4 linked regions of the Homo sapiens genome follow. The protein of the gene in region 2 interacts with the protein of the main gene of each other region in a pairwise test. Each region holds a gene or a part of one and is shown on either strand. Other genes may lie near its edges. The genes, in order: MPZ, CCP110, MAP2 and DCAF10.

Region 1 (6,936 bases), on a different chromosome or scaffold from region 2:
AGCTGTCAAAGCTTAGCTCCATAATTTGTTACAGAAAGAAAAAAGCAAAAAAAAAAAAAAAAAAAAAAAAGCTTCGCTCCAGCCTCAGGGTAAGGGATCTTGGGCTGGAAAGGGTAGTGCTGGAGAAGGGAGGACAATGTAGTCAGGGTGACAAAGACTGTCATTTACCTTGCCAAAGTTGGGGTTATGGCTCAAAAAGGATTTCCCCCTCCTTAGCCCAAGTTATCTTTTTTGTTGTTCTTTGAAGCACTTTCTGTTATCCAACCCCAGGATTCCCCCAGGCACTCACCGAAATGGCATCTCTGCCCCCTTCGGGCTGGTAGCGCCAGGTGAAGGAGATGTCATCTGAGACCCACTCACTGGACCAGAAGGAGCAGTGCAGGGTCACCCGGGAGCCCACAGCACCATGGACCTCCCTGTCGGTGTAAACCACGATGGCCTGGGCCGGGGACAGCACTGCAAGCACAAAGTGGGGAATCAGATGCACCTATGGGCCCAGTAAGGGATACAGAGGAAGTGAGATCAGTAGGAAATCAAGTGCTGAGTCACAGGTCAGAGGCCAATTTGGAAAAGAAACAACAAATTCTGAGCCCCAAGTCTCTGGGGACTAACTGAACAGATGAGCATAAATGCTGTGTCTGTCAAGCTCTTTAGCATGTCTGTAGAGAAGATGAAATCAGCAGTAACAGAATTCTCTTGAGGACTTCCAGAGATTGGGTTCTGTCTTTAAGTCTCACTTCTCCTTTGGGTCAGTATCTAACTTTTAAGCTATCCTTTAGATGCAGTGTTCTAAATTTTTAAAATTTATTATAAATTATACAGGTAATACATATTGTACTCTTCTTATAAACTATTCAAGCAATAGAAATAAAACAAAAGTCTCCTTTGACACTTAGCCCAACAAATTCCTTTCCTGTATTCCCTTCCAAGATGTAACAAGTTATCCATTTAATATGAATCAAACTCAGTATAAACTCAATAAACTCAAGATATACACATACTTACAACAAATAGTTTTGTGGAGTTTTTTTTTCCACATACATATTGCATTGTATTCTAGTGTCTTTTTGCTTAAGAACTTACGTATCTGGAGGAGCTTTCCCTGTTGATTCATAGATATCAATCTTATTTTAACAGCTGCATTGGATTTCACAATACAGCAAACTCAGATTTCTTGCAGAAAAAAATGAAGATAACTAGAAAATATAAGTCTTCTTCCCTGGCACAACTGTCCTCATTGCTGAATCCCTGGTTGCCATACAGCTTGCTCTTGACTGGAGAGTCAGGAAGGGAAGGGCCTCATACCCCTCTCAGCTGGGTGCAGAGCAACACCCCAAGCCTACAGCTCAGATGACCCTACATGTGAGCCCTCTATGGTTCAACTGTCCTCACCTTCCTCTTGGCCACTGTGGCCCAGTGCCATCCCCAAGACTTACCCACACAAGGAAGGTCATTCCAGAGAGACTATGTGTGTGGGCTGGCCCCAGGGAGGGGCAACTGTAGACCTTTTTGTTCTACAGGAGGGGGAGGTGGCAACCAAACAAAGTTCCATTGTCTGACCAACGCTGGGGGGCTCATGCCACCCCTACTCCCACCCCAACTGTCCTGAATCTCTCACCTCAGCATGCAATACCATGTACTTACCTTCTGGAACTTCCACCTTAGAACCTTCTTGGGAATCCCCCTTGTTTAACAAGGGAGATAATTCACTGGCTCTAACTTCTATTCCTCCTGTTACAATATCAACCATTGCCCTTCTCAGCTGTGCTCAATGGTTCTATGAGTGGAACAAGTGTTGAGACACAACTCTCCCTCTTCCTTATACATCAAGATTCCTTCCCCCTATTTCCCTCACTATGCCCTTCTCCAACTCTCTATCTTTAACATTTTCTCAGGGTACCCCCAAATAGCCCAGTACAACCCAGAAGAGTCTAGGGCTCAAGCAGCTGACAGCAGAGAACCCTGGGCATTCTGGCCAGCCCCCTTTCCCTTGATGTCCTCCCCACCACCCCCACTTGCCTATGGCTCACTCATTGCACTAGGATTCAGGGCAGTTCAGAGAAGGGAAGGGGCCATTCCAATAATCCTGCTTTGACCTCTTACTCACCCAACATCTGCCAGGGGGCAAGGAAAGGGCTGGTCAGCTTATGAAGGAAGACAGCTTTAGAGGGATAAGATCCCAGAATCTCATAGAACCTCACTCCATTCACCCACACAACAGGTGAGGAGCCATAGAGAGACAAAAAATCTGAGGAGCTGAGACCACAAACCTGGGCTCCTTACTTAGATCGCACTCTCTTTTTCCTTCTGGGAAACTAAGGTTAAGGCACCTCCTGCACTGCTAGGGGACGAGTGGGAACCAAACCCAGGTGTTTGAGCCTATTTCTTTATGTAATCTAACACTGCTTCCCACCAGGCTGTTAGCATGGCTCTGGGGGCATGCTACTATTTCCAACCTGGGTCCAGCCATGGCCACCACTCAGGGAAGCTTGCTACACTCTCTTTTACCCTTTCTTTTAAAATAAAACCTCTACTTCCTCCCTCTAAATGCATATTTTTTTCTTTTCATATATATATATATATATTTTTTTTTTTTTTGAATTTTACAGATGGAGTCTGGTTATGTTGTCCAGGCTGGTCTCCAACTCCTGGGGCTCAAATAATTATCCCACCTTGGCCTCCCAAAGTGCTGGGATTACAGGCATGAGCCACCATGCCCAGCCGCATATTTTTTCTTTCTGAATATAATGTCACCTTCCTGCTCCTGCTTGTTCTTTCTTTGGTTGCAGTGGGGAGTGCAGCAAAGGCTGTGGGGATTGCTGAGAGACACCTGAGTCCCAAGACTCCCAGAGTAGAGTGGCTCCACTTACCCAAAGAAGAGAAGAGCAGCACAGCCAGGATAGGGCTGGGGCTGGATGAGGGAGCCCCAGGAGCCATAGCTGGGGCAGGGGCAGGGGCCCGGAGCATCTGTGGGGTTGAGAAAGTGGGGGACCAGGAACTGAACGGGGGGTTCCTGGAACCTGCTTAAAATCCCCTAGGGCCCCAGCATGAGGGGGCTGTCCTCAGCCAGTAACCAATTGCAGCCTGGCATGTGCAGTTGAGAGGTGGTGGGGAGGGGGGCAGAGTGCAGGGAGCAGAAGGGGCATTGTATAGTCTGGGTGGAGGGGTGGGGGGACACATACCACCCCATACACAGAGGGCTTTGTGTCCACTGGCCTCCCCCTGCCCCAGGCTGGAATGTTGTGGGGGGTGGTGAGGGAGAGGGACAAAAACAGGGACACAGACACACTTCTCTGAGGGATAGATATGGAACCTCAATTTAAAGGCCATAAAAAGGGATTTCTCCTCAGCCTCCTTGCCTGAGAGAGGCTGCCTCACAGCCCTAGGAACTAGAGGGAGGTTTCCCCCAGAGAACTCTGAAAATAGGATATCCCCTGTTATCTCCTCTAATGTGGGCTGCATTACAGACTTCTTGAGATGACCAAGTCCTATGGGAGTTTTTTTCCCCGCACCTCCCTTCATCCTGTGCGATTCTTCCCAGACAGAAGTTTTTCTCCACTGGACTATTTCCAGGCAAGAAGCCCCTGACCTTTCCGTTTGTCAAGAAGTCCTTCAGTGCTTCATGCTGCTGTTTAAGTCCATTTCAATTTATTTCAAGGCTACAAAATTGTATTAAGTGCCAGCAATATGTAAAGTATGAGAATGCAGGTAATAGAGAGAGGAATAAAAATTAAGTCCTTCCAGCAAGGAGTTGAAAATTTGGTTTGGGGAGGTGGAGATGGGAAGATCAGAGGACAAACCCATCAACAATCAAGTATAATAAGCCATGACACTTCCTTTAGTAATGAACAAAATGCTGGGAGTACAAAAGAGGGGCACACACAGCTGCAATATCAGGAAGACTAAGTTATATGAGAGATTAAAGACAAAATAAACTTTAATAAATGAAGTTTATGCCAGGCATAGTGGCTGACACCTGTAATCTCAGCACTTTGGTAGGCTTATGCAGGAGGATTGCTTGAGTTTAGGAGTTTGAGACCTGTCTGGGCAACATAGCAAGACCTCGCCTCTACCAAAATTTTTTAAAAAATCAGCTGGGCATGTTATCACATGCTTGTAGTCCCAGCTACTTGGGAGGCTGAGGCAGGAAGATCGCTTGAACCTGGGAAATCAAGGCTGCAGCGAGCTATGATTGTGCCACTGCTTTCCACCCTGGGCTACAGAATGAAACTCTGTCTCAAAAATAAATAAATAAATAAATAATCAAACAAATAAATAGTTCAGAGGGAAGAATAGTTGTGTCTAGGAGGCAATGTTAGATATGAATCAGCCTTGAAGGATGACTGTCATTTTGGAAAGGGAGATAGGGAGGGTTACCAGAAGATAGAACAGCAAAAGCAAGGACAAAGAGGTGAGACGGAGAGACAGAATGTGTGTGTGTGTGTGTGTGTGTGTGTGTGTGTGTGTGTGTGTGTGTGTGTGTATGTATATGAGATGTAGGTTTCTGAAGTGTTGGATATATTCAGGGCCGATCTTGTGCCATCCACTTTGACTTGATTTGGGGAAACTTGAAGTGGCATAGTCAGAAATGAGACTGGACAGGAAAGTCGAAACCAGTTTGTGAAAGGCCTTAAATGACAGGTGAAAGAAGGTGAATTCAATTTGGTACATCATGAGAACCTGAAGGTGTTGGGGTGGAGTTAGCCATGGGGATGTCTACATAACCAGAGCTGAGGTTTTTTTGTTTGTTGAGGCAGTCTCGCTCTGTTGCCCAGGCTGGAATGCAGTGGCATGATCATGGCTCACTGCAGCCTTGACCTCTGAGGCTCAAGCAATTGTCCTACCTCAGCTTTCCAAGTAGCTGGGAACTACAGGCGCATGCCAGCATGCTGGGCTAGTTTAAAATTTTTTTTTTTTTTTTTTCAGAGATAAGGTCTTGCTCTGTGGCCCAGGCTGTAGTGCAGTGGTGCAATGATAGCTCACTGCAGCCTCAACCTCCCAGGCTCAAGCGATCCTCCCACTTCAGCCTCCAGATTAGCTGAGCCACAGGCAGCCACCACCATACCCAGCTAATTTTTCAATTTTTTGTAGAGATGAGGATCTCACTGTGTTGCTCAGGTTGATCTTGAACTCCTATACTCAAGTGATCCTTCTGCCTTGGCTTCCCTAAGTACTGGGATTACAGGTGTGAGTCACCGTGCCTGACCTCTAGAAGTTAATGTAAGTGGGGTGGTCATTGTTATTCCTGCTATGAGACCACTGCAGGCTCACCCAGGTGAAGGACAGTGTCCTGGTACCTTCCTGGCATCTCATTAGACCACAGCCCTGGTGGGTATGGTCATTAGTATTAGATTTGGGTTGTGGAATTCTAAATATGGGATTGCTTATGAAGTCCATAGGCAAAACCATCATCATTGACAAATGTTTACAGGATGTTGTAGTCAACATTTCTATAAAACAGCAATTCAAAGTACAAAAAAAAAAAAACCCCCAAAACTCTCCCCTCCAAAATTTCCACCTAACTCCACCTCCCAACTGTAAGCAATCATTTCCTCTTTATCTAACCACCCCTTTTATCAACACCCTCTTCAATGGGTTGTTGCTACTTTCTTTGTTGCATGTCTTTATTGATCCTGCTAAGGCTATAACCTTCTTGGGGACAGTACAAACATCTGTATCTTTGAATCCCCTACAGAACTTTTCACGGACTGACAAAAAGTCCATAACTACATGCTAAATGAAATTATTAATATTTAAAGAGCTGAGTGGGCTGGGAGTGGTAGCTCGCACCTATAATCCCAGGACTTTGGGAGGCCGAGGCCGGTGGATCACTTGAGGTCAGGAGTTCTAGACCAGCCTAGCCAACATGGTGAAATTCCATCTCTACTAAAAATACAGAAAATTAGCCGGGCATGGTGGTGCAGGCCTGTAATCCCAGCTACTTGGGGGGAGGCTGAGGCAGGAGAATCGCTTGAACCTGGGAGGCAGAGGCTGCAGTGAGCTGAGATAGCGCCACTGCACTCCAACCTGGGCGACAGAGTGAGACTACGTCTCAAAATAAAAGAAAAAGAAAAAGAAAAAGAAAAACCAAAAAAGATCTGAGTGAAAAAGGCATTCCTTGGGTTTGTTAACGTGAAGCTCCAGAGAGCCAAGTCAATGACTGGAATTTCGATAGCACAAAACTGTATTTAAATATAATAACTAACGAATAAGTTGTTCATTAAATAAAACTTGTTGTTTGAGGTACCCATCATTGAATATGGGGGGGTAGAGTCTTGAAGATCAGCTGTTATGGGTGTTGCAGAGGAGATCCCTGCATAGATAGTAGATTGGATTAGAGAGCCTCTTTCAATCCTAAAGTGTACGAATGTGCTTTGTCAAGCATTATAGAAATGCAAAGTAGTATTATTCATCTGATGCAGAAATAAGTGAATTTGTGCTATTTAAATCCTGAAGTGCAGGGATGCTAAATATACATAAGATCTGAATATTAATATAATTGAGTATTTTTTTTGTAGAAATAGGAGTTGCTCTAGCCTGTCCCTTTTACTCCTCTCCACCCTACTCCCCACAAGAGTCAAGAACTTTTGTGCTCTGTTCCCTTCCTTTATCATTTGCTCTTCTTCTTTCTTCAGTCTTGAGTGCTCGGCAGTTGATTCCTGTGCTTGGGTTCCCTAAAACTGTATATATATATATACACATATATAAATCAAAGCGTGTTCTTCCCCTCACTCCGGGTTCTTCTAGCTGTGGGTGTCACCCACATAGCGCTGAAACAACGAACAAGGGAGCATTGTCCTCGGCTAGTGGGCGCCTGGTCCATGTGGCAGCTCAAACCCAGGAATTGTGGGGTCTAATCGAGGTGGTTAGATGAGGCTCCTCGTTTTCGGGAATGGTGGTCCGCAAGGTCTTCTCGAGGCCCCTCTACACACTCCC
Region 2 (7,029 bases):
ATATGAATTTTGATATTTAGATCCTTATCTAAAAGTAATTGCATAATTTATCGAGAATATTTTATTGAATCCTTGATTTAAAGCTTAATATTTTAAAAAGGTATTTTATAAATAGGTGCTAAAGTACACATTCTGCAGGAGTTGTATCATAAAAATGACACTCATGCTGGGCGTGGTATCATGAGCCTGTAGTCCCAGCTATGCAGGAGGCTGAGGTGGGAGGATTGCTTGAGCCCAGAAATTCAAGGCTGCAGTGAGCTATGATTTCGCCTTTGTCTAGCCACTGCACTCCAGCCTGGGCAACAGAGGGAGACCCTGTCTCTATAAAAAGAAAAAAAAAAAGAACGACACTTGTTATAATATTATTATAATTAATAATTTAACTATACATTATCACATATTAAATTATAGCCTGGGCGTGGTGGCTCACGCCTGTAATCCCAGCACTTTGGGAGGCCGAGGTGGATGGATCACCTGAGGTCAGGAGTTTGAGACCAGCCTGGCCAACATATAGTGAAATCCCATCTCTACTAAAAAATACAAAATGGTGGTGTATGGACCTGTAGTCCCAGCTACTTGGGAAACTGAGGCAGGAGAATCACTTGAACCCGCAAGGTGGAGATTGCAGTGAACCGAGATCGTGCCACTGCACTCCAGCCTGGGGGACAGAGCGAGATTCTGTTTCTTGAAACAAGAAAGAGAGAGAGAGGAGAGAGAGAGAGAGAGAGAGAGAGAGAGAGAGAAAGGAAGGAAGGAAAGAAAAGAAAAGAGGGAGGGAGGGAAGGGAAGGGAAGGGAGAAGGAAGGAAGGATAATTTGAGGAAGAAAAACTTGAAATAAATAATAATTGCTGATAATTACATGTACTTTTGGCTAAGCCTAAAATGATATCATTTTGGGACATAATTAAAAGGTTTAGCATGTTACAATAAACTGTTCATGTATAGGAAATAGAAGAGCAGGAGAAAATGTTAAAAGAGAAGAAGGCAATGACAGCGGAAGCCTCTGAGTTGGACATTAACAATGCAGTGGAATTAGAATGGAGAAAAATAAGTGACTCTAGTTTGCTGGAAACAATGCTGTCTCAAGCGGACTCACTCCATACTTCAAATTCAAATAGTTCTGGTAAATATTTAAAAATCCTTTTACATTTGGGAAAGTGATCCTACGGTAAGATATTTATTTGGCACACTATAAGATTATATCTCCTGTTTTCAAATGATTCCATGTCCAACCCTCTTTGCCAGCTGCTTAGTAACCAGTGAAAAATGACATGATAGGAGATCAAAGACTTGTGAGCAGATGTTTGTGAACAAAGATTACCTTTGCCAGGAAAAGATCAGGAAATTTGGCTTAGAGCCCAGTCTGATCATTCATGCAGCAGGTGATATACTTCAAGTGAAAACAGTTTGCTCTCTCCTGAGTGATCTTGAATTACCTCTAATTCCCTAGTCCCTTTAAATAGCTTATCTTCATATCTCAATTATCCTGAGATGCTGTTTGTGTTGAAAAGATCCACCTGGTATGTAAGCTTTAAAGTCCATAAATATTTTAAGTCGGCAGGTAGGTCATTTTTGGAGGCAGTTGTTATTCTTAATGAGTGTCACAAGTGTTTATTGGGATGTTCTTCGTATTCTAATTATATGACATCAAGTATAATACTATATGTATGTTTCTCTAGGTTTCACAAATTCTGCCATGCAATATAGCTTTGTTTCTGCAAACGAAGCACCATTCTACCTCTGGGGATCATCAACTAGTGGCTTGACCAAACTCTCAGTAACAAGGCCTTTTGGAAGAGCCAAAACTAGATGGTCTCAAGTGGGTAAACTTAATGATACATGTCCATCTATCTATTTATCTTTTCTTAAGAGCTATATTATCTTAGACTGTATAAATGAACACCAATAAACATTGTGTCTGTCTTCTTTCTCCTAGGTTTTTAGTCTGGAAATACAAGCAAAATTTAACAAAATAACTGCAGTGGCAAAAGGATTTCTTACTCGTAGACTTATGCAGACAGATAAGCTGAAGCAACTTCGACAAACTGTAAAAGTAAGATTCCTGTAAATCGTTTGTATTTCACTTCTGTCTTAGTTTCTATCAGTCTTGTGACAGCTGAGCTAACAGATTAGTTCAGAACTTAAACGCTTTTTAGTCACTGTAATCTAGGCAGTTTTAGAAGTCTGATTGTTTGTTGCGGGAAGTCAGGGACCCCGAATGGAGGGACCAGCTGGAGCCGCAGCAAAGGAATATAAATTGTGAAGATTTCATTTTAATATGGACATATATCAGTTCCCAAATAACACTTTTATAATTTCTTACTCCTGTCTTTACTTCAATTGCTGAACATAAATTGTGAAGATTTCATTTTAATATGGACATTTATCAGTTCCCAAAATTAATACTTTTATAATTTCTTATGCCTGTCTTTAATCTCTTAATCCTGTTATCTTCATAAGCTGAGGATGTAGGTCACCTCAGGACCACTATTGTGTTAACTCTACAAATTGATTGCAAAACATGTGTGTTTGAACAATAGGAAATCAGTGCAACTTGAAAAAGAACAGAATAACAGCGTTTTTCAGGGAACAAGGGAAGACAACCATAACTGACTGCCTGCGAGGTCGGGCAAAATAGAGCCATATTTTTCGTCTTGCAGAGAGCCTATAAACGGACGTGCAAGTAGGGAAGATATTGCTAAATTCTTTTCCTAGCAAGGAATATTAATAATTAATACCCTGGGGAAGGAATGCATCCCTGGGGGGAGGTATATAAACGGCCACTCTGGGAGTATCTGTCTTATGCGGTTGAGATAAGGACTAAAATATGCCCTGGTCTCCTGCAGTACCCTCAGGCTTACTAGGATTGGGAAATTCCACCCTGGTAAATTTGTGGTCGGACCAGTTCTCTGCTCTCAAACCCTGTTTCCTTTTAAGATGTTTATCAAGACAATACGTGCACAGCTGAACATAGACCCTTATCAGTAGTTCTGATTTTGCCCTTGTCCTGTTTCCTCAGAAGCATGTGATCTTTGTTCTCCTTTTTGCCCTTTGAAGCATGTGATCTTTGTGACCTACTCCCTGTTCTTGCACCCCCTCCCCTTTTGAAATCCTTAATGAAACTTGCTGGCTTTAAGGCTCAGGTGGGCATCATGGTCCTACCAATATGTGATGTCCCCCTCGGACGCCCAGCAGTAAAATTCCTCTCTTTGTACTCTTTCTCTTTATTTCTCATCTGGCTGACACTTATGAAAAATAGAAAGAACCTATGTTGAAATATTGGGGGCTGGTCCCCCCAATAATCGTTAATCTTTCTCAGATAATATTATGAATAACATGTAAATGAAGCAGTTTGTGTGTTTTTGACTTGCTTGAAAGTGAGTGGTTTGACTTCTGATAAGTAATAGTTTTATTTATGTTCTTAGTACAGTCGGTCCTCTATCTCTGGGTTCCACATCTGTGGATTCAACGAACCATGGATCAAAAATAATTCAGAAAAAACAAATGATGGTTGTGTCTGTACTGAACATGTACAAATTTTTTTTCCTTGTCATTATTTCCTAAACAATATAACAACTATTTACATAGCATGTACATTTATTAGGTATTTTAACTAATCTAGAGATGATTTAAAGTATATGGGAGATGTGCTTAGGTTATATGCAGATAACTATTTTATATAAGGGACTCCAGCATCCTTGGATTTTGGTATCTGAGGGATTCATGGAACCAGTCCCCCACAGATACTGACGAAAGACTGTAATTTTGGATTGACTGAGAAAAAGAAAAAAGCAAACTCCAGTGATCACAAATCTTTCTAGAAAAATGTTTTTGAAGGAGCATTTCTTTTTTCAGGATACTATGGAATTCATAAGAAGTTTTCAGTCAGAAGCACCATTAAAGAGAGGCATTGTTTCAGCTCAAGATGCTTCACTTCAGGAAAGAGTGTTAGCTCAGGTAAATACATGGATCCTGAAGGCTTTTAAGACATGGACATATTATATTTCTCCTTTTTTATTTAATCACTGAAAATAGGTTTCAATGAAAACTATTTTAATCTTTTTCTATAAATAAGTGTACATGGTATATAGTATTCCTGAACTCTAACCTCATCTTTTAAATGTATACAATATTTTCTTCTCTTGTGCCTAGTTGCGAGCTGCCTTGTACGGTATTCATGACATATTCTTTGTAATGGATGCAGCTGAAAGAATGTCTATTCTACATCATGATCGAGAAGTTCGCAAAGAGAAAATGCTCAGGCAAATGGTATGTTATATGATTTCTAATGAATAGAGTTCTTCTGGGTTTAGGGTAATTGATACTAAATGTCAGTTTTGGTTGACTTCAGCACCCTTCTTCTGATAATTCTTAAGCACAAGTAATTCCTGGAATTACTAGCAGCATTTAAATCTGTAGACAGATTTAAAAGAATTACATCATTTAAGAATTACATATTGTTTTCTTATTGGATTTTAGAGTTGAAGCTTTGAATGTTTTGCTCAGATGGCTTATACAATCTATCAGCTGCTCCTGATTGAATTTCCTTGAATTCAATTATAATGTGGGTTTTGCTTTTTTTGAAATCTGAGTTAGAAAACAGGCTCCAAGTTAATTTGAAGTATATCAGAGTATGTGATTTGAATCAGTTATCTTAGTGTGATTGGCAAAGGAAAAGCAAGCAAAATTTACATAATTCTAATTATTTAATTCTTAGAATTAGACTGCTTCAAAAATACAAAACAAGATGATTTAACTAAATTAAAAATGTTAGTAGAGAGAAGCTTTTCCAGGCAATGTGGGATTATAATACATTATAATATAGTGGTATTAATTGGTTCCAGTAGAGTTTGACGTTACTTTTGTATATTAAAGGATAAAATGAAAAGTCCACGAGTGGCTCTTTCAGCTGCAACACAGAAGTCTCTTGATAGGAAGAAATACATGAAGTAAGTTTTTTGTATCATGTCATGTTAGTTATCAAACCAATTAATTTTAGTCATCTGTTGGTCTATTTGCATATTTAAATTTAGAAATAAAGAGTTAATTTTTCTGCAGTTGAGCTGATAGAAATCCCCTTTATATAAAGAAATTTATTAAAATCAGGTGCTAAAATCTCATTTCATCTTAGATGAATTTATTTACTAAATTTGACAACATTCAACTCATATAACTGATAGCTGGTTAATCTTAAAAACAGTTAATCTTTATATTCAGTGCCTAAATATATTCCTTTTCTGATGTCCTAAAGGTTTCTTGGGAATAAAGACTTAATGGGAAAAATATCTTAATAACTTTTTTAAAAAATTCTTCTTTCTTGAATGCAGTCTTTAATATGCTTAGTACAGGTCTTCCAGTAGTACACCAGCTTCTAAATGATGATTTGTTTCTGTCATCCTGTATTACATTTGTAAGCATGTTTTCTTCCCTTCTCTAAATACATTATGTCCTTATTTTTATATTGTGTTAGAGCTGCTGAAATGGGAATGCCAAATAAGAAATTTCTGGTTAAACAAAATCCTTCTGAAACAAGGTGAGAAAAATCACTTAGTCTTAATGAGAGGCTTTTTGTTTTTTATAGAAAAAAAAAATTGGCTGGGCACGGTGGCTCACGCCTGTAATCCCAGAACTTTGGGAGGCCAAGACGGATGGATCACCTGAGGTCGGGAGTTTGAGACCAGCCTGACCAACATGGAAAACCCCATCTCTACTAAAAATACAAAATTAGCTGGGTGTGGTGGCACATGCCTGTAATCCCAGCTACTCAAGAGGCTGAGGCAGGAGAATCGCTTGAACCCGGGAGGCAGAGGTTGCAGTGAGCCAAGATTGCTCCATTGCACTCCAGCCTGGGCAACAAGAGTGAAACTCTATCTCAAAAAAAAAAAAAAAAAAAGTTAAAAAATTAAAATTTAAATCCCAAACTTCATTTTTGTTGACTTTGTTCTACTTGACATCAGTAGAGCACTTCTTGCTGAATTGGGTCGGGGGTCGTCCTCAGGCTCAAGATTCATACCAATACCTGGCCATATACCTAGTCACATGTCAGACCAGATGTGCCCGGACCTTTTGTAGGACATGCTATCTGTGGTAGAAATTTTGAGCGTGGTATGTCTTGAGTTCAGTTAGACAGTCCAGAGGATCTTTGATACTTATTTAAAAACCTTAGAAAGCTAATTTAAGCTGGGCTGGGAGCAGTGGCTCATGCTTGTTATCCTAGCAGTCTGGGAGGGTGAGGTGGGTGGATCACGAGGTCAGGAGTTCAAGACCAGCCTGGCCAAGATGGTGAAATCCTGTCTCTATTAAAAATACAAAAATAAAAGATACAAAAAGCCGGGTATGATGGCGCGTGCCTGCTCAGCTACTCAGGAGGCTGAGGCAGGAGAATTGTTTGAACCTGGGAGGCGGAGGTTGCAGTGAGCCGAGACTGCACCACTGTACTCCATCCTGGGCGACAGAGCAAGGGTCCGTCTCAAAAAAAAGCTAACTTAAGCTGGGCACAGTGGCATGCTCCTATGGTCCCAGGTACTCGGGAGGCTGAGGCAGGAGGATAGCTTAAGCCCAGAAATTCAAACCAGTATGGGTAACATAGTAAGACCCATCTCAAAAAAATAAATAAATAAAAAATAAAGCTAAAAAGCGAACTTTAATATTTCTGACCTGTTTTTTACTCCTGTAAAATGAGAGTGATACTTTCTTCTCTCACTGGTTTGAAGGGAAAAGTTAGCTTTTGTAAAGCATATGTATAAGAAAATTATCTAAAAGCACAAGGGTTAGTCTATATGTTGGACATTTCTTTGCTGATAAAAACCTAAGGTTTGGACTCTTAGTGAGCAAAATACAAGTATCATATTAATATGCTTTAGTCGATTTGCTCTGATTTGTGGTAATATATAGGCCATATTATTGCATAGTTGACCTTTACCTTACAGTCATCATCTTTCATCCGTTGAAAGAAAATGGGAAAAAATGGAATTTAACCTATTAAATTAATTTTTCATTTAATTTGTCAACAGAGTCCTTCAGCCAAA
Region 3 (7,029 bases), on a different chromosome or scaffold from region 2:
TGGGGAATTTACAGCCCCAGAGATCCACTGAGAGAAATATGAATGGCTAGGACATGTGACAAGCCAGGGCTATGATTCAGTCAGTGTTGTAGGCCAGATCTTGGACAATTATCTGCTCAGCTGCGAAATCGTGCCGAGTTGAACTAAGAATATCAAACGTTATTTTAGGCTTCTGCTATCCCATGATATAAAAAGCATTGTGGCTGAGAAAGTTCTGAGCATCCATCCAGAAACATCTTCCATGGAACAATCAGTAAATAATGTGCTTGAAAGATTAAATGTATTCTCTCTACAAAATGTTATTTTAGTATCCTCATGATTTCAGACTTATTTCTAGTTGTCAGCACTTGGTTGCCAAAAATAAGTTACTGTCCTAAAAATACAGTATATTTGCAAATTAATGCTATAATTTTGTCTTCTTAAAATCTGATATAAATAAAAACTGTACAGATAGATACTATAGATTTTGTTCTTATTATTGAGAGTCATGAAATTTTAAATTGATATCTCAATATAAGTAAATAAATAGTGATTAGCAAATTTAGCAACCACCACATAGGCCTGAGATGTAACGTCTGCACCACATCAGAAGCCAAGTGCTCACTGAGTTATACGAGAATCCAAATGCTAAGCAGACTGATCTACAGTTGTATATTTAAGGAGATATGTTTAAATAATGCAAATTTCCTAGGCAAGATACAGGAAAGAACAGAAATGAGAGTAGTTACTTTAGCATTTCAATAAGAAATATGCAATAAGAGGTTTGAAACATGAAAAACAGCCAAGAGCCAGTGGTACAAATGAAACTACATGGAATAAAGTCTTGATGAATCTGCAGCCGACTCTGCAGAAATTTTTAGCTAATTGTATCTCTGCTAAGCTTTCAGAAGGAAAACAAAACATAAGAAAACAAGTTTATAATATTAGAGGCTTTCTTAAAACAGTATACTTTTAGTGTCCTGCAAATCAGAACCTGGTTTAAAATGATGCCTCTAGGTACTACATTAGCCTTAGCATCCAAAGAAAGAGCTATGCTGACTGCGCATTTCTTATTAAGGCAGGAAAGAGGCATAATGCATTGTAGATTTTTCTTAACAGGATTGAAATTAAAAATGACTTTCTGGTTAAAGTTATTAACTAGAATTAAATTAACCAAAACACTACTTGTGCATCCTAGATAATTAAGACTATGTTTTAAACAGGACTGTTTTCTTCATAATCTTACAGGCGTTAAATCCTAATAACTTTCTTCTTTTTAAACTTATAAACATATTGATCTAAGCATGAGTAGAGTTAACCTTCATGAAATAATTTCCTCCAAAGAATGCATTTGTTTTGTAATGCTTTGTTTCTATTCCAACGTTCCTTGGTTATTCTGACTTGTTTGAGAGGAATGTACAGATGATTTTTATTTTGCCGCAGGGCTGTCAATGCTTTTGGTTCACTTAGATCAATGGCAAACTTGCTTAAGGGATAGGTGGAATTCAGCAGTTACTGAGGCATGAAACATTCACTGTCTCCCATCCTCCATCAGCTTGATCTTGCTAATTTCCCTTCATCCTGCTGTGCTGCTTCTGTGGCCCTTCCTGCCCTTGTGTAGGTGTTTGTTTCGTCCGTCTGATCTTGTGTCTGTGTTGTCCAGTTCTCCCTGCAGTTTCTTCCTGTGTGTCTGTTTGTAGATGAAGGGGCTGAGGATCAAGTGGGTCCTCTACACAGGTTCCCCAGCCATGAACCTGCCACCAGCGGGGAGAGGCGTGGACTCCTAGCCCCCTCCATCTCAGTGTCTGTGCCTGATGATGACCCTTACAATTCCGATGAGGAGTACTATGAGCATCCTTTGTTCAGCTCAGAACGGACCACCTCTAGTGTGCTCCCCAGTGTCACAGCGCAGAGTGCAGAGGCCCACTTAGGCCAGGAGAAAGGTGAACCAAGCATGGTCCCCTTTTGCTCCTCCGCCCCGGCCTACAGCTTTGACCACCTACATCATGTTAAGTGTGCCTTAATACAGGGTGGGAGGGGCAGGAGCCTGTTTTCTCTGCATGAAAGTGAAGTTCCTATATAAGTTGAATCTATCCAAATGCCTTAACAATTTATATAAAAGAAGCCTTACTAGAGGCATGTGAGCACTTCCTTTTTCTGTATCATTGCTTCTGAGAAGGAAGAAAAAGAGAGAGAGAAAGAGAGAGAGAAGCAAAAAAATATTCCATTAAAGTATGGCTTCTTTCTGCTCCCTGCCAATAATCAGCTGGGGAAGAACATATTCTTTACCCAAACCAAAGAAGATGACTCTGAATATAATTTTTTTCCTCCTTAGACACATAATATTACTATTAAATAGCATCTTTAAATAGCATCTTTAAATAGCATTAGCTTTCTTTTTAGTGCTATATTAATATGATAGATCTTTAAAAGAGAAAGAATGAAGAATCTGTTTAGAGCAGAATAAATGTTATGGAAACAATTTATTTCCCCATATCATGTAATCATCTACAGAAACTACAGAGGCTTCCCCAGGTGACTAAATCTTGGCTCACATCAGTAGAGCTGGACTAAAATGAAGGAAATGATTCAAAGCCTTTGTCATTCTAGCCTTATAAAGCTGGGAGACTCAAGTGTATAATTGGTTATCGTGAGGATAAAATAAGTAGGTGATGGGCTGCAATGTGTCTCATTCTAACTAGGTAGTTTTGGTAAAGAAAAAAAAGGTACAGCTAAATATATTTTTGCTTAGGCGAAGAGTTTATTTCCAAAAGGGACAATATTTAATATGAAAGCAGATAGTTCTAAAGCAATAAGGAATAAGCTTACAGCTCACCAACTATGGTCATCATAATAAACGTCTTCAAGGACCCTTTTGAAAACAGAACACCAATAGCTCAGGTTCTCTGATAAAGAAATATAACCCCTATTAAGTGAAACTAAGTTCTTCTAAACTAAATTTCTAAAATATGTGAGTTTTTAAATTAGGAACAATTGTAGTGGAAATAAATATGATTTATACTAAATGAGAAAATGAAAAGCTAAAAAGCTACATGGATTTGAAAACATGTAAATTAACTTGATTAGACTTTATCCAAAAAGGTAACATTATAATGCAGTTATATTAAAATTCTTTTAACTGTAATCAAAATCTATGGCATTATAAAAATTTTCTTAAAATAACAAGTTAGAATTTAAATTTTTAAAATGCTACTTAAAATGCCATAATTAAATTACAAAACTAAAAATGAGTGCTAAATGTGAAGAGATTGATAATGTAGATTTTTTTTTCTCTCTCTGTTTCTCTCTGAGGATATTAATATTTCTAAAAAACAAAATAAAAGAAAATTCCTTTTCTTTTTATCTGTAGTCTTTCCCTCAGGGCCGTTTAAACAATGCACAATTATTTCATAAGAATTTTGTAAGAATCTTCCATTTACAAAACTATAAAACAGCTCATATATTTCTCTCTAATTCCTTAAGTGACCAAATGGAATTTACTTATTTTTACTGACATTTCAAGTGTAAATGAGAAACAAATTAGTGCAATAACTCATGAACTTGAAAAGTTTATCTTTACATCTTAAATGTTAACTTTTTTATGTGATATACATGGTTTGGGGGGTGGTTATTTTGGCCGTTTGATTGCCACTCAATTATCTTTCCTTGGTGATTTTGTTTTGAATTACAGAAATAAGACTTTATTACTAATGTGCATATTTTTTCTTTAGTGTCAAAGAGAATTATACATGAACTACATTACTGATATTTCAGGGAGTTTAACAATATGATAATAGTTGTGTCCCAGAGGTAGACTTTTGTAAACAGATTTAAATTTAACCTTGACCTTGTTTTTAACACATTTTATTTTACTTACTTTTTGAAAATGTTCATTTTCTCCAACATCATACAATGCAATGAAGCTAACATAACTTGACTTAGGTAGTCCCTTACCTTGGAAATGCTAAATAAATTATATTTTAAGTAAATTTGGTGGACTTTGTGATAAAGCTGTTAAGGTAGTTGGTTGGATATTCTTTTGAAGCAAGGCTTTTTTTATTCCCAAAGATTTCTTTAGCAAAATTTGCACATTTTAAATAAAGCAGCCGGGAATTCTTATGTAGGGGCTTCCTGCATTGGCGAAAACAGCACATGTCTAACAAATTTAAAGGCTTTTTTTTTTCAGTACATCAGTACATCCATCTTTTCACAACCATCTGTTATCCGGCAGTACCATCTCTTATTTCCAGCAAGCTTTCCACATGCGTGCAACTTACTGCCGTTTCCAATAAGGGTAATCAATCAATACAACCCTTTCAGCTCTCAAACTTTAAAATAAATTGCCTTTTAATGAGACTTTAAAAGTCATCACTATTAGCAGATTATACATCATAGTTTTCCAACCAGTACCTAATGTATGTTGCATTAGAATATTAATTTGTTCATCCCAATGGTAAAATAAAAAAACAGCTGAGGTCTTCATGAGGTCATTCTAATGGAGCTGAAAGTGTTCCTTTAGCAATATTTCTGTCGTTTCATGTATTGTTCTGTGGTCATGATGTCAACATCTTTTTCATCCCTAAGAAGAAGAAACGCTAGAGAGTCGGATGGCTGAGGAAGAGAAACCTGCTGCTCTTCCTGAGAAAGAGTGTGGGGCTGCTAAGTCCTCAGACCAACCCAAGGGCCTCAGTAAGGGCCAAATGGAGTCTAGTGCGGAGGCCCAAATAGTTCCCGAAGAGAGTGCCCCAGCAGGGGCCCCACATGAGAAAAGTGTAAAAGAGGTCAAGGAGGTGTCTCCAGAAGTAAAAACCCCTTCCTCTGCTGGGGAAGGTGTGTCTTTCTCAGGATTTGCATGTGTTTTGTTGCAAATGATCTCTCCAGTGGCTTACCAACCTGATGCCTTTCCAACGCTATTTCGCTATTTCATCGCTGGGTCTTATGATAACAAGTCCACTGTTGTAGGCTTAATGTGCAGAGAGTGTGGCTTGCGCAAGTGCTGTGTGGCAGCTGGTTTTCCAGTGCTGCAGCTGATTCCTGGTTTTCCTTTGCCATGATACAATACGCTTTGCAGCCAGGCTGATGATGCTATGTGAGCTTCTTTTTTTATTTTATTTTTTTACCCGCCCCCCCTCATCTCAAATGTTTGCCAGTCACATTGCTAATACATGTATATTTTTGTTTTTATTTTGGGGACAGCAATTCATATGCTTTTATTTCAAATCGTACAGTTGGATTTTGGCACATAGAGGCTTAAATGGTGGAATCGTTTTTGTTTGCAACCGAAATGTGCTATATTTTTTATGCTTCAATGAATACTGGTTTGATTTTCTTGACCTCCTGCTGATGCTTCTCATATCATTTTCTCCCCATGGCAGCCAGCCCTTCTGATCATCCCCATATCTCTTGAGTTTTCATTCATCTAACCTTTATTAGAAGTTCATCAAGTATTTTTTTTTCTATTGTTACAACAGGACACATAAGTATATAAGGTAATGATGATCCATACACTTGCTCTTTTAGAGATGATTGAATTTTATTATTTTTCCCCAAATCTTTTCCAGATAACTACATTTAGCTCTAATGACCACAGTGAACTACTTTGACCTTAAAACACAAGTGGGACAATAAAGCCTTTTGGATTGTTGAATAAATAAAAGTAAAAATGTGTTATCTAATTTCTGTGAAGCACCTCTAAAGCCAATACTGGCCAATGCTTCACCAGTTAGTCATGCTCCAAGGATTGAGGTCATGACCATGGGAATAAAGTTATTTCAATAGTTGACTCTTTTGAAAAGTTTGTTACTCACATGACTTCCCAGTATCAACAGTGTAATTCAGATTTTCTTATATCTACCGTACAGACTAAGTAATGATTAGGAATTTAAATTTTTAAATATGTAATAGAAACTGGCTTGTAAATTCTTAAGTCATATCATATAAAATTGATAGCAAATATTTACTTATATTTCTGAAATTTATCCTCAGATGAATTCTAAAAATTTATGCCAGTAACCTGTGGATGCCTAAAGAATTGGCCCTGACATTTGTTAATCAAGTTAACTGCAACTATTAACATTATATCATTGTGCATTACTTGGCCCTCTGCCCATAGCCTACCAATTCATTTTTAAATGATAAAACCAATGAAAATGTTCAGTATAAATCAATTCTTTATCTATATTTAGTCCTTACTATATATTCTTTTGTACCCTAACATTAGCTGCTTACTCAATATTCATTAGCTTATAACTTTTATGTATAGAAGGCACATGAATTTGTTTCTTCTGTAATACACATCACATAATGTTTAGGAGAGACCAAAAAAAAAAAAAACAAAGAAAAAAAGAGAAAAGAATATCCAGAAATATACTGTTCTTACAATTCCTTTGCACATTAATTTACAACCAGAGTTCATTTTAGTAATAGTACACATATATCTCAGTCCTGACCTTTTCATATTGACTTTTACATGGGTAGCATGCTTGCATGTTCCATAATTTTTGTTTTTATTCTACCATTCATTTATCACTTCAAAATATAATTTTAAGCTTATTTCCTGAACGCACTTGCCTATTATTTGTTTAAAAATCAACCCGATTACTTCAGATTTACTTACAGCCTCGAAGATGGAGTTCCACGATCAACAGGAATTGACTCCCTCTACAGCTGAGCCTTCAGACCAGAAGGAAAAGGAGTCAGAGAAGCAAAGTAAGCCTGGTGAAGACCTTAAACATGCTGCCTTAGTTTCTCAGCCAGAGACAACTAAAACTTACCCTGATAAAAAGGACATGCAAGGCACGGAAGAAGAAAAAGCACCCCTAGCTTTGTTTGGGCACACTCTTGTTGCCAGCCTGGAAGACATGAAACAGAAGACAGAACCAAGCCTTGTAGTACCTGGCATTGACCTCCCTAAAGAGCCTCCAACTCCAAAAGAACAAAAGGACTGGTTCATCGAAATGCCAACGGAAGCAAAAAAGGATGAGTGGGGTTTAGTTGCCCCCATATCTCCTGGCCCTCTGACTCCCATGAGGGAAAAAGATGTATTTGATG
Region 4 (7,029 bases), on a different chromosome or scaffold from region 2:
GCATGAGAATCACTTGAATGTAGGAGGTAGAGGTTGCAGTGAGCACCTGGGGGATAAAGCGTGACTCTGTCTCCAAAAAAAAAAAAATTAAAAAGAAAAAAGGTTTCAGTTCTTCATACAGTGAACACTATTCAGCCATTAAACATGATTTTGTTAATAAACCTTTAATAATGGCAATATGTTTTTGAGATAATATTAGGTTTAAAACAGAAATTAAGCTAAACATCAATAAAGTGGTTATTTTTGGTGATGGATTTTTTTTTTCTTTTTCTTTTTTTTGAGACGGAATCTTGCTCTGTGCCCCAGCTGGAGTGCAGTGGCACGATCTCAGCTCACTGCAACATCCGCCTCCCGGGTTCAAGCAATTCTCTGCCTCTGCCTCAGCCTCCGAGTAGCTGGGATTACAGGCGCCCGCCACCATGCCCAGCTAATTTTTTTTGTATTTTTAGTAGAGACAGGGTTTCACCATCTCGGCCAGGCTGGTCTTGAACTCCTGACCTTGTGATCCACCCGCCTCAGCCTCTCAAAGTGCTGGGATTACAGGCGTGAGCCACTGCGCCCAGCCGATTTTTTTTCATTAAAAATATTTTCAGTAGAAATGTTTTTTGTTATCGTTATTTTTAAAATAAGAGATGGGGTTTCGTCATGTTGCCCAGGCTGGTCTCAAACTCCTGAGCTCAAGTGATCCATCCATCTTGGCCTTCCAAAATGTTGGGATTATAGGTATGAGCTACCACGCTTGGCCAGGAAATGTATTTTTATAATTAAAAAATAGTTACTGGTAATCACCATAGAATAAATCCATAATGTATTCCCTAGTCATCTCTACTTTCCCACACACAGCACTCCTAACTGCTGCTTCTCAGAGGGCACCATCCGCTCACATGCCTGTGTATCTTTGCTTAGTAACCCTGACCACTTAGGGAGTTCCTGCTCATCTTTTATTCAGTTCAAATGATAACATCATGAAGTCTTTCCCAGCCACCCTCTTTGCTTATTCCACACAATTATTTCGTGTAATTATGTACTTACAGTGTCTTTTCTGCTAGGCAGTGAACTTCTCTTTCATTTATTTTGTAAGTATTTGTTGAGTGCATATGTGTCTGGCACCATGTGTATTGTATACTGCAGATCTAACCATGACCCTAGGCAGACAGGTTCCTTCTGTCTTCAGGGAGTTTACAGTAAAGTTGTTCCTTACAGTATAATATTAAGTATTATGATAGAAGCTCCCAGAATGCTTTGGGAGCTCAGAGAATTGGTAGGTCTACCAGGCTGGTTAAACAAGGAAGGCTTCCTGGAGGGCATAACAGCTGAATACAGTTATATGCCACATAACAACATTTCAGTGAGTGACACCATATACAACAGTGGTTCCAGAAGATTATAATGGAGCTGAAAAATTCCTATTGCCTAATACTTACTATGTTATACTTATTATTGTTATTTTAGAATGTACTCCTACTTAAAAAAAAATTAAACTGTAAAACAGCCTCAGGGAGGTTCTTCAGGAGGTATTCCAGGAGAAGCCATTGTTATCAGGAGATGACAGCTCTGTTCCTGTTATTGCCCCTGGAGGCCTTCCAGTGGGGCAAGATGTGGAGATGGAAGACAGTGATATTGATGATTTTTACCCTGTGTAGAACTAGGCTAATGTGTGTCTTTGTTTTTAACAAAAAAGTTTAAAAAGTAAACATTTTAATAGAAAAAAGTTAATAAAATAAGGCTATAAAGAAAGAAAATATTTTTGTACAGTTGTACAATGTGTTTGTGTTTAAGCTGTTATTACAAAAGAGTCAAAAGTTTAAAAAATTAAAAATTCATGAAGTAAAAAAAGTTATAGTAATCGAAGGTTAATTTATTACTGATGAAAAATTTTTAAATTAATTTAGTGTAGCCTAAGTGTACAGTCTTTATAATGTCTACAGTAATGGACAGTAATGCCCTAGGCCTTCACACTGACTCACCCCTCACTCACTGACTCACCCAGAGCAACTCCCACGCCTGCAAGCTCCATTCATGGTAAGTGCCCTATACAGGCGTAACATTTTAAATCTTTTATACAGTACTTTTACTGTATTTTTTCTATCTTTCAATATACAAATACTTACGATTGTGTTACAGTTGCCTACAGTATTTAGTATGGTAACATGCTGTGCACATTTGTAGCCTATGAGTGATAGGCTATATACCATATATACCATATAACCTCAGTGTGTACCATCTAGGTTTGTGTAAGTTCATTCTATGATGTTCACACAACAACAAAATCACCTAAGGACACATTTCTCAGAATGTATTCCATCATTAAGTGACACATGATGGTATTAAAAAGAAAGCAAGAATTAGCCAGATCCAGGGGCAGGAGGAAGGTTGTTTCACCTAGCAGAAACAACCTGTGTAAACGCCTGGTATTTGAAAACCGTGATCAATTTTAGGAAGGTCGTTATGGTGTTTGTGGATATTGAGGTTGATTTCTGACAATTATATGTAAATTTATCTTAGAAGAAGCACCAGAATTCATTTCTTCTGTAAGAGATTAGGATAACAGCATGTATTACAGAAAGCATCCTAATGTTAAATTAAGCAAAAATTCAAGTGTGAATAGTAGTTTATTTTTTAAGTATTTGTATTAAATATATTCTCACTAAGGATTGAGAAGTTAGTGTAAAATAATAAAAAGTCTGAATTATAGAGTATTTTAAGCCTATTTTGTAATTTTCTTGATTGGTCCTAATAAAATGTTGCTAAGAGATTATTTGGGAAATACCTTTCAGTTAAAAGATTTAAAATAATGGCAATTTTATAGCAATTTTTGTATGTAACTGTGTTCTAAATAGAAAAAGATGTTCCTTGTAGCAGAGCAAATATTTCTCATGATTTTGATTATGTGTAATGTGTCCCTCTCGGCAATCAAGTCTTCAAAACTTCCTCTATCGCCTATTAAATTCTCTCTCATCATTTTTGTTTCCTATAGAGATTCTGAAGTTCTTTTTTTCCCTTCTGTCACTGTTTTCCAAACACTTACCCCTATTTCCAATTTCAAATAAAAATCAGTAATTTAAAGCAAATGGATCCAATTGCAATATGACTGTCATTAAATCATAGTATCCTGGCTCTGTGATTATGCAAAGTATACTTTTTATAGTATATCAGTCATTGGGTTTACATAGTGAGTGTGTAGTCCTTTTTTTCTTTCTTTCTTGACTAGGTAATATAGTGACTGTTTCTCAAATCAATTTTCCTTTAAAAAGAGATTAAATGAACCAGGGTTTTGTTTTTCTGCTTTTATAGATTTCTTGATAACCGGCTGTTTGCTACCTGCTCTGATGACACTACAATAGCACTATGGGATCTGAGAAAATTGAACACCAAAGTATGCACTTTACATGGTCACACTAGCTGGGTGAAGAACATCGAATATGATACTAATACAAGACTCTTAGTAACATCAGGATTTGATGGAAATGTCATTATTTGGGACACTAACAGGTTTGTGAATAGGAGACCATGTTAGGATTATGAACAAAAACATTTTTTTTAAAGATGGTGAACAAATTCAGTGTTCTGTCCTAGCCTCAAGAAGGAAACTGGCTTTAGGAAAAGCAACCAAAAAGTGATGATATATTTTGTTAATTGTACCTAGTCATATATTGCAACTAAAAATTTTGGGGAAAATTATACAGGAAGGAGACCAAGTAGTATAGTTAATGATGAAAACTGGCTTATAAAAAAAGAGTTTCCTGAATTTAAGGAAAAATATTTTTGTTATTTCTCCTGTGAAACTAAACTGTTTCTCACTTTTTCTTCCCTCAATTCTACATATATTTATTTTGCAATTTTTGTTCTTTGTTTTCATGCATTAAAAGAGTAGTTCTCATTTGGAATGGTACTGATCTCAAAGGGAATGTTTAGGAATAAAGCGTGGGGCAATTTTGGTTGTCACTATGGGGGAAGAGAACTATCTACTAGCATGTAGTCAGCAAGGACCAGAGTTTCTAAACCTCCTGCAGTACACAGGTCAGTGTGCACAGTGGACTAGTTGTCCCACCTAAAATGCCAGTTATGCCTCTGTTGTGCAACATTCCAACAAAATGTCTCCTTATAAAGAAATTGATATTTAAAGAGTTGAAGTTTGAAAAACAATTAAAATATGCCTGCTTTGCTAGCTATGGTGAAATGATAATATAGTAAACACACCATGATCATTTCTGTGTATATTTGTTTTTGTTGTTGTTTTTGAGACAGGGTCTCGCATTGTCACCCAGGCTGTAGTGCAGTGGTACAGTCACAGCTCACTGCAGACTGGATCTCCCAGGCTTAAGTGATCCTCCTGCCTCAGACTCCTGAGCAGCTAGGACTATAGGCATGAGCCACCATGCCCACCTAATTTTTTATTTTTTGTAGAGACGGGGTCTCGCTATGCTGCCCAGGCTGGTCTTGAACTCCTGGGCTCAAGTGATCCTCCTGCCTTAGCTCCCAAAATACAAGGATTACAGGCATGAGCCACTGTGTGTGGCCATCATTTTCGAAATATTCTTTTTAGAGGTCATATGTAAAAAGAGAGGGGCTATTCTTGGAGATTTCTAGCTACCCATACTCTTTGAGTGGAAGGCAAAAACTATTGGTTATCTTTAGACAAAGACAAGCATACCTACTAAATGAATTTGTTTACTAAAATTTAGAAATAAAATTTGAATAGAAATATAAATGTAACTTCCAAATTAGTAGAGGGTAAAAAACTAATAAAACATGATCAATCCCATAGAAGCAGAGAAGGGAAGGAAAAAAGATAATTATTTAAAAGAACAGGTAAATTAGGAAGCACAAAACTAGTCATATACTGCAACTAAAAAGTTGGAGAAAATTATACAGGAAGGAGACCAAGTTGTATAGTTCATGATGAAAACTAGCTTACAAAATAAATTTCCTTAATTTCAGGAAAAATATTTTTTGTTATTTCACAAAGCATAAAACTAGTAGGCAGATAACCTAAGCTTTAATCCAAATATTAATAACTGTGATAAACGTATATGGGCTAAACTGTCCAGTTAAAAATAGACAGTGTTAGATTAGATTAAAAATAAAACAGAACTGTATTTTCTTTGTAAGGGACACAGTTAAAACATACAAACCTAGAAAAGTTGAAAGTAAAAGGATGAGAAAAAACAAACAATTATACGTCAAAGACAAAACAGTTGTGGCTACATTAATAGCAAACAAAATAAAGTTTAAGACAAAAAGCATTACTGATAAAAAGGTACTATAACAAAAGATTAATTTCACTAAAATATAAAAGCTTGTATGCGCCTAAAAACATAGCATAAAACTATAAAAAGTAAAAGTGGACAGAATTACAAGAAAGAAGTGAGAAATCTCCATCTCAGTGGAAAATATTAACAGCATTCTCTCATTTACTTATCTAGATAAGATAGACAAAAATGGGCCGGGCATGGTGGCTCACGCCTGTAATCCCAGCACTTTGGGAGGCTGAGGTGGGCAGATCACTTGCGGTCAGGAGACCAGCCTGGCCAACATGGTGAAACTCCATCTCTACTAAAAATACAAAAATTAGGCCACGTGTGGTGGCTCACACCTGTAATCCCAGCACTTCGGAAGGCCGAGGTGGGTGGATCACCTGAGGTCAGGAGTTTGAGACCAGCCTGGCCAGCACGCAGAAACCCCATCTCTACTAAAAATACAAAAATTAGCCAGGCGTGGTGGCTGGCACCTGTAATCCCAGCTACTTGGGAGGCTGAGGCAGGAGAATCACTTGAACCCAGGAGGTAGAGGTTGCCGTGAGCCGAGGTTGTGCCACTGTACTCCAGCCTGGGCCACAGAGTCAGACTCTGTCTCAAAACAATAACAACAGCAACAACAAAAATAAATAAAACACAAAAATTAGCAGGGCCTAGTGGCACACGCCTGTAATCCCAGCTACTGAGGCAGGAGAATCGCTTGAACCTGGGAGGCAGAGGTGGCAGTGGGCCAGCCTGGGTGACAGAGTGAGATTCTGTCTCAAAAAAGAAAAATAACAACAACAACAAACAAAAATGGATAAGGCTGTGGAAGATTTAAATATTATTAATAAGCTTGATGTATTACACATATTTAGATTTCTGCTACCAACAACTAGTGAAAACATCCTCTGAAGCAAACTTAGAACCAGTACAAAAATTGAGCATGTACTGAACTACAAAGTAGGTTTCAGCTGGTACCAAAGAACTATTATCACACAAACCATTTTCCCTGTTCTTAGTATCATTTAGTTATTAATTAAAAATTCTCATGTTTAGAGACTTATAAACTCACTTTTAAATAATTTATGGATCAAAGAAGAAATCATACTGAAGACAGGTTGAAAATTGATGAACTAAGCATCTTACTCAAAAAACTGGAAAAAAGTAAAAGGATAAACCCGATGAAAGTAGATGTATGGAAATGATAAGTGTAAAAGCATAAAATTGATGATGTCAAAAATGAAAATATAATAGAGGATTTTTAAAAGCCTGCTCTTTGAAAAAAGCTAATTGAATAGGCAATTCTCTGGCAAGATTCATCAAGAGAAAAAAGACATAAATAACTAATATCAGCAATAAAAAGGAGACAACAATATAGAAGAAGATGATAGATGAGCTTTATCCCTATATACTTGAAAACTTTGATGAAATAGCCAGTTTACTAAAAAAATACACCTTAGCAAAACTGGCCAAGGAAGAAATAGAAAACCTGAAATAGACCTATTACTAGGACTAATATTTAGCCAATATGTACTGGTTCAGCTGAAGTACTGTTAAAAGATTGAACTTCTTCCATACCAATTCGTAAATAGGCACTGCCCTGAGTTACCCTCTGACACCCTCTGACTACCCAGGCCCCTCTTCTAGAGATACCTCCCACAAAACCTTCCCATGATTCAGCAGCAAAAGTCCCCCTTACACAATATGGCGATTCCAGGACCCTGTTCCAGCACAGCCATCTGCATCTATTCTGACTGGCAAGTGTTCATGCGGTGCTTGTTATTTAAAT

Evidence for each region.
Region 1: the proteins of CCP110 (region 2) and MPZ interact in a two-hybrid assay, tested with the Homo sapiens proteins (one study listed by IntAct).
Region 3: the proteins of CCP110 (region 2) and MAP2 interact in a two-hybrid assay, tested with the Homo sapiens proteins (one study listed by IntAct).
Region 4: the proteins of CCP110 (region 2) and DCAF10 interact in a two-hybrid assay, tested with the Homo sapiens proteins (one study listed by IntAct).

The regions. Positions count from the first base shown.
Region 1 is NC_000001.11:161,306,969-161,313,904, forward strand, and holds the start of MPZ (myelin protein P0 isoform MPZ precursor), read right to left. Parts: upstream 3,001-6,936; 5' UTR 2,968-3,000; coding exon of another isoform or gene 2,938-2,967; coding exon 2,871-2,937; intron 457-2,870; coding exon 290-456; intron 1-289. UniProt on the Homo sapiens protein: Is an adhesion molecule necessary for normal myelination in the peripheral nervous system. It mediates adhesion between adjacent myelin wraps and ultimately drives myelin compaction.
Region 2 is NC_000016.10:19,540,941-19,547,969, forward strand, and holds part of CCP110 (centriolar coiled-coil protein of 110 kDa), read left to right. Parts: intron 1-946; coding exon 947-1,124; intron 1,125-1,680; coding exon 1,681-1,820; intron 1,821-1,937; coding exon 1,938-2,054; intron 2,055-3,856; coding exon 3,857-3,958; intron 3,959-4,153; coding exon 4,154-4,270; intron 4,271-4,876; coding exon 4,877-4,950; intron 4,951-5,471; coding exon 5,472-5,534; intron 5,535-7,014; coding exon 7,015-7,029.
Region 3 is NC_000002.12:209,686,040-209,693,068, forward strand, and holds part of MAP2 (microtubule-associated protein 2), read left to right. Parts: intron 1-4,563; coding exon of another isoform or gene 4,564-4,809; intron 4,810-6,585; coding exon 6,586-7,029. UniProt on the Homo sapiens protein: The exact function of MAP2 is unknown but MAPs may stabilize the microtubules against depolymerization. They also seem to have a stiffening effect on microtubules.
Region 4 is NC_000009.12:37,838,795-37,845,823, forward strand, and holds part of DCAF10 (DDB1- and CUL4-associated factor 10), read left to right. Parts: intron 1-3,294; coding exon 3,295-3,492; intron 3,493-7,029. UniProt on the Homo sapiens protein: May function as a substrate receptor for CUL4-DDB1 E3 ubiquitin-protein ligase complex.